Linked DNA regions of Homo sapiens. The protein of the gene in region 2 purifies or fractionates together with the protein of the main gene of each other region. This does not show direct contact. Each region holds a gene or a part of one and is shown on either strand. Other genes may lie near its edges.

The links. Proteins that work in one complex are often made in the same cells at the same time.
Region 1: the proteins of PDS5A (region 2) and EFTUD2 purify together in Homo sapiens (affinity purification with western blotting; 2 studies listed by BioGRID, with this or other methods). This does not show direct contact.

The regions. Positions count from the first base shown.
Region 1 is NC_000017.11:44,892,946-44,896,445, reverse strand, and holds part of EFTUD2 (116 kDa U5 small nuclear ribonucleoprotein component), read left to right. Parts: intron 1-1,920; 5' UTR 1,921-1,924; coding exon 1,925-2,029; intron 2,030-3,500. UniProt on the Homo sapiens protein: Required for pre-mRNA splicing as component of the spliceosome, including pre-catalytic, catalytic and post-catalytic spliceosomal complexes. Component of the U5 snRNP and the U4/U6-U5 tri-snRNP complex, a building block of the spliceosome.
Region 2 is NC_000004.12:39,901,412-39,904,911, reverse strand, and holds part of PDS5A (sister chromatid cohesion protein PDS5 homolog A), read left to right. Parts: intron 1-720; coding exon 721-872; intron 873-2,451; coding exon 2,452-2,565; intron 2,566-3,500. UniProt on the Homo sapiens protein: Probable regulator of sister chromatid cohesion in mitosis which may stabilize cohesin complex association with chromatin. May couple sister chromatid cohesion during mitosis to DNA replication.

The sequences.
Region 1 (3,500 bases), on a different chromosome or scaffold from region 2:
TCTATCTCCTGACCTCATGATCCGCCCATCTTGGCCTGCCAAAGTGCTGGGATTACAGGCATGAGCCACTGTGCCCAGCCAGTTAACTACTATTTAAGACAAAATTAAATACTGATAAAGGTGCAAAAAGCTCTAGTAGGATAGAGGAATGAGAAATTGAGGAGCTAGGAAAGCTTGAAGGAGGTGGTGGCATTTGAACTGTTTCTTTGAATAGAATTTCAGTAATTGAAGTGGAGAAAACCCACAAAACACTACTTAATTACAAAGGGAAAATGAGTAACTTTACAATGGAGAGGCCTGGCAAACATCACCTTAATGAAGTGATCAAAGTTAACGTTACCACTAATGGGGCAAATTGAAATCATGTATCACCTGATACGAAATGCATTGAGAAGAACACAGCATCACTTCTATGATATTCCTGCCCAAAACGCATAACCTGAATATTATCATAAGGTAACATCAGACAACCTCAAATCAAGGGACATCCTTAAGGATTTCATGACAGTCCTTGGAAGGAAAGACTGAAGATTGTAGATCCAAAGACTGAAGATTGTAGATCCAAAGAGACTAGAGACATGACAACCAAATGCAAACATGATCCTGGATTGGATCCTTAGGTGTGTAAGGTATTATTGGAACAATCTGTGAAACTTGAATGGGATCTGTAAAGAAGGTGGTAGTAATGTGTGAATATCAATTTTCTGATTTTGATGGTTGTATTGTGGTTATGTAGGAGAATGTTCTTGTTTGTAGGAATTACACATGGTGAGGGAGAGGTTGGCAAACTTTTTCTATTAAGGACTGGATAATATTTTAGGCTTTGTGAGCCATATGGTTTCAGTCTCAACTATTCAACTCTGCTATTACAGTGTGAAGGCAACTGTAAATGATGCAAATGAATATGCATGGCTGTTTTCCAGTGAAACTTTTTTTTTTTTTTTTTTTTTGAGATGGAGTCTTGTTCTGTCTCCCAGGCTGGAGTGCAGTGGTGCCATCTCGCCTCACTGCAACCTCCACCCCCTGGGTTCAAGGGATTCTCCTATATCAGCCTCCTGAGTAGCTGGGATTACAGGTGTGAGCCACCGTACCCAGCTAATTTTTGTATTTTTAGTAGAGACAGCGTTTTGCCATGTTGGCCAGGCTGGTCTCGAACTCCTGACCTCAGGTCATCTGCCTGCCTTGGCCTCCCAAAGTGCTGGTATTACAGGCATGCGCCACCGCGCCCGGCCTCCCAATGAAACTTTTTTAATAGACACTGACATTTGAATTCCTTATAATTAATTTTCATGTATCATGAAATATTTTTCTTTTGACTTTTTCCCTGGCAATTTACAAATGTGAAAAAGCATTCTTAGCTTGAGGGCCATGTAAAAACAGCTGGAGGGGCCAGATTTGGCCACAGGCCAGAGTTTGCCCACCCTTACACTAAAGTATTAGGAGGTGATGAGCCATTGTGTCAACAGCTCACTTTCAAATAATTTAGGAAAAAGTAAGTTATTTGTACTGTTCTTGCCATTTTTTGATACTGAGTTGTTTTAAAATTAAATTTAGTATTAAAAAAGTGGAGGGAGGGGGACCTCCTCTTTTGGCTTTGGAGCGCCCCCCACGCCCCATCTCTGTACGGCGGAGCTTCTTCCTTCTGTCTTCTTTCTTCCTTCTTGCCTATTCAACTCTCTGCTCCTTAAAACCCAAAACAAGAAAAGTGGAGGGAAGACTACATAAATAGAGACAAGTAAGGCAGAGACTTGGGGAAAGTACTGGGCTTTGGGAGGAGCATTCAGTAGGTTGATGTCACTGGAGAGGAGGCATGTGAAAGGGGTATGGCCAACCATAAGACTAAGACTAGACAGGTGGAGCCACCACATGAAGGCCTTGATTACCTTGTCAGAATCTAACTCTTCTCTCCTTGAATTTTAGCATCATGGATACCGACTTATATGATGAGTTTGGGAATTATATTGGACCAGAGCTTGATTCTGATGAAGATGATGATGAATTGGGTAGAGAGACCAAAGATCTTGATGAGGTAAAACAAATATATTGCTCTTTTATCTCACTCTTATTTATTTTATTTAAGACAAGATCTCACTCTCTTGCCAGGTTGGAGTGCAGTGGCGCAATCTCAGCTCACTGCAACCTCCACCTCCTGGGCTTAAGTGATCCTCCCACCTTGGCCTCCCAAGTAGCTGGGACTACAGGTATGCACCACCATGCCCAGCTAATTTTTTTTTATTTTTCGTGGAGATGAAACATTGCCCAGGCTGGTCTTGAACTCCTGAGCTCGAGCAGTCCACCTGCCTTGGCCTCCCAAACTGCTAGGATTACAGGCATGAGCCACCATGCCCAGCCCCCTCTTTTTTCTTTTTTTTTTTTTTGAGACAGTCTCACCCTGTTGCCCAGGCAGGAGCGCAGTGGCACCATCTTGGCTCACTGCAGCCTCTGCCTCCCAGGTCCAAGCAATTCTCAATGCCTCAGCCTCCTGAGTAGCTGGGATTACAGGTGTGTGCCACCATGCCCGGCTAATGTTTTTTGTATTTTTAGTAGAGACAGGGTTTCACTATGTTGTCCAGGCTGGTCTTGAAGTCCTGACTTCAAGCAATCCACCTGCCTTGGCCTCCCAAAGAGCTGGGATTATAGGCATGAGCCACCATGCCTGCCCCCCCACCCCCCCCCCCACCTTTTTTTAAAAAACAATGAAATTTTGAATCCTCTGTGTTCCAGTGATACCCTGGGTACGTCTCTTGAGATTGTCCTTTTTATAACATGACTTAGTGGGATCTCATACTGCTCCAGCAAAGCTTCGCTACTAAGGTTCCAAAAGGGAATATGTAGTTTCATTGATGAGATGGTTTTGTAATCTGAGCTCTAGTTGATCATTAGTTCTTCCATTTCCCTGAAGTGTCTTTTAACAGTCATGAATAATTCCCACTTGGAAAAGATACTCAACTCTTCCAGCTACAGCTGCACTGGGAGCTCCCTCACAAGCTCAGATTTTCAGAGATGCATAAAAGCAATAGAAAGGGCCCGGGCGTGGTGGCTCATGCCTGTAATCCCAGCACCTTGGGAGGCCAAGGTGGTCAGATCACACGGTCAGGAGTTCAAGACTAACCTGACCAATACGGTGAAACCCCGTCTCTACTAAAAATACAAATATTAGCCAGGCTTGTTGGCGCGTGCCTGTAGTCCCAGCTGCTTGGAAGGCCGAGGCAGGAAAATCACTTGAACACGGGAGGCGGAGGTTGCAGTGAGCCAAGATTGTGCCACTGTACTCCAGCCTGGGCAACAAGAGTGAGACTCGGTCTCAAACAAAAAAAAAAAAAAATGACTGTTGAGTACTTAGGAAGCTAGCATGAGTTTTATAAAAATAATTTTCTCTTGATAGGATTACTAGGTTGAGCCACAGGTCAGGGGCATGCTGTGGACATGATGTATCTTGATTTGGGCAAGACATTTGAAGTTTTTTATTGATGTCTTATAAACCAGCATTTTTTTTTCTT
Region 2 (3,500 bases):
AATTATAATCACTTCTAAAACTTGGTGAATTTTCTTTCAATAGAATCAAATGAACTCTCCCATAAGGTTATTAATAGTTTTCAAGGGAAATAAAAAATCAGTAACCTGTAGTTCTAGGTACTCAGGATGCTAAGGCAGGAGGATCACTTTAGCCCAGAAATTTGAGACCAGCCTAGGCAACGTAACGAAACCCCATTTCTTTAAAAAGAAAAAAGTAGATCATTTAGCAATATTTGCATTGGAAAATTTCTAAATAGGAACAGATTCAAAATTGTTTGTAGGCTGGGCGCGGTGGCTCACGCCTGTAATCCCAGCACTTTGGGGGGCCGAGGCGGGCGGATCATGAGGTCAGGAGATCGAGACCATCCTGGCTAACAGGGTGAAACCCCGTCTCTACTAAAAATAAAAAATTAGCCGGGCGTGCGGGCGCCTGTAGTCCCAGCTACTTGGGAGGCTGAGGCAGGAGAATGGTGTGAACCTGGGAGGCGGAGCTTGCAGTGAGCCAAGATCCTGCCACTGCACTCCAGCCTAGGCGACAGAGTGAGACTCCGTCTCAAAAAAAAAATAAAATTGTTTGTAAAGCCTCTTTTGAAGAGAAATAGTGTGCCAGTTTATAAAGGCACACATAAGACTGTACAACCTAATGAAGCCAAGGCAGTCTTTGGAGATTAGTACAGAGTTTTGTTATCTTGCTCATCTAATAAATTTTATGCTTTTTAGTGGCGAGTAAGAAAAGAAGCTATGATGGGTCTGGCTCAGCTTTATAAGAAATACTGTCTTCATGGTGAAGCAGGAAAGGAAGCTGCAGAGAAAGTCAGCTGGATAAAGGACAAACTTCTGCATATTTATTATCAGAACAGCATTGACGACAAGTGAGTTTAATATGTTGGTAGAATGGTTGAGTGTAAAACTACTTTTTACTTAAAAAATGTCTATTTAATATTTTAGTAATTTCTTATTTTTATGTATTTACTTCATAAATAAAATTAAGTTTATTCAACTTGATTAATCATTTATTTCTAAGTTTAGAGATAGCTTTTTACATATTTTTATGTACTGTGTTTAAACAAGACTGTCCACGATTATAAGGTAGCCTTATAATATGAAATAGGCATGAACTTTGGAGTTAGAGACCAAATGTTCACTCTGCCCTTTATTAGATGTGTATTCTTACATAGGTTCATTAAGGTCTTGTGCGCTTCAGTTTTATATAAAAAGGAAAAATAATAGTGCCTTTCCCACAGGATTATCATGTAGATTAAATAAAATAATGAATATAAAGCATCCTAGCCCAATGTGTGGCAAGAGAGCACTATTGAGTTAACTGCTAGTTACTTTCCTTTTTACACCACTACCAATAGAGGAATTACTAAGTTGTTTTCATTTTCTGAATATTACTTATAATTCTATATTGGATCGTACAAATGATACTTGGTGTGTGCAGAATAGTTTCCATTGTTTTGTTTAATTAAACTAACTTCTCTGGCATCACTGGATATGTATTTCATTTGTTAATTAAGAGATCTTGTATATTCTTAATCCAGTGATATTAAATAATAGAAGCAAGAAGATACAAGCAATAGGTACTAGCAAGAAGGATATTCCAATATTGGTAAGGAATTTAGATCATGGAGAGAACAATAATCAGATGTACACAGGAAAAACTACATTTTCTGGAAGTAATATGAAGGGGGGTCCCCCTGTTTTTAACTATGTGACAACATGGAAAATGGGCTGAACTGTAATCAGAGGAAATTAATGAGTTTCTTGAGAATTAGCTCTACCGCGGATCATAGCTTTATATGTTGCGTTAATGAATTTGCTTTTGTTCTAGACTGCTGAAGAAGAATAGGCGGAACAGCCTAGCACCCTGTGTTTAGGAATAACATTTAAACCTTCTAGAACAAATGTTTCATACTGACAAATTATAAAGCCACAGACAGTAACCGTGTCTCTAAAGTTAAACTGTACTGAAAGCTTTCCAAGAAGGAAGTCATTATAAACTGATATCTTCCATTGTATGTGCACACATAGCTATTATCTTGATATGGTATCCTGGCATAAGATGGTTAAAACTTAAAATGTTGGCTGGGTGTGGTGCCTCATGCCCGTCGTAATCCCAGCACTTCAGGACGCTAAGGCAGGCGGATTGCCTGAGCTCAGGAGTTCCAGATCAGCCTTGGCAACATAGGGACACCTTGTCTCTACAAAAAATATAAAAATTAGCTGGGCATGGTGGCACGCGCCTGTAGTCCTAGCTACTGGAGAGGCTGAGGTGGGAGAATCGCTTGAACCTGCGAGACAGAGGTTGCATTGAGCCGAGTTTGCACCACTGTACTCCAGCCTGGGTGACAGAGCAAGACCCTGTCTCCAAAAAAAAAAAAAAAAATTGCTTCTTAAAAATGGAATAATTGTGTCACTTAGGTTTTTTTTGTTGTTGTTATTTCCTAGACTGTTGGTAGAGAAAATCTTTGCTCAGTATCTTGTCCCCCACAACCTGGAAACAGAAGAGAGAATGAAATGCTTATATTACTTATATGCTAGTTTGGATCCAAATGCTGTAAAGTAAGTTACTTTTCAAATAACTGCTGTATTTTCTAAGGATTTCGTAAAATTACTTCATCTTATCTAATTAGTTGTTATTGATTGGATTGTTGCTGCTTCTATAGTTGAATCAAGAACCTCAGGTAAATATTTATAGACAAAATGTTACGATTTATGTTCAGGTTATTCTTATATGTGTAGGCTTGTTTGGCAGCCAGGTCAGTAGTAGGATGGTTTCAGGTGTTCAAATAAATGACCACGTCAAAATACCTGTGGCTAGTGTCTAAAACTACTGGTGCTTTATCCTTCCAGACTAAATATTAAGCCTAATAACTGAATACTGATTCTTTGTTGGGTGAACATATTCAGATCTTCTCTGTGTAAGATGGCCATATGATTAATGGTCCAACTGGATTATTTTCAGACTGAAAGGGATCACTATTGATATTTTTACTTAAATAGCATAATCAAACTGTCCCAGGCCAACCAGGATGTGTGGTCATTTCACTTTAATAGATTTTTTTTTTAAAGTAAATGTTACAATATATACATATATTATGTTGTACACCATCGTATATGTAATTTTTGTCAAAAATACACAAAGTAAATGAGTGATGTCATTAAGAATTCTGATCTGAAGATGGAAGGATCTTTTCAGCCTAGAAGCTTGACCATCCTGGGCAATGTAGTGAGATTCTGTCTTAAAAAAGAGAGAGAATTTTGAGTTAGGAATTTGACTGTTTGCCATTGTGGCTTCTTCAAGTGTTCCTGCATTATTAGATTAAGACTGCATTTTTAGGCCGGACGTGGAGGCTAACCCCTGTAATCCCAGCATTTTGGGAGGCCAGGGCAGGCAGATAATTTGAGGTTAGGAGTTCGAGACCAGCCTGGCCAACATGGTGAAACCCCATCTCTACTAAAAATACAAAAATATTAGTTGGGCATGGTGGTGCACG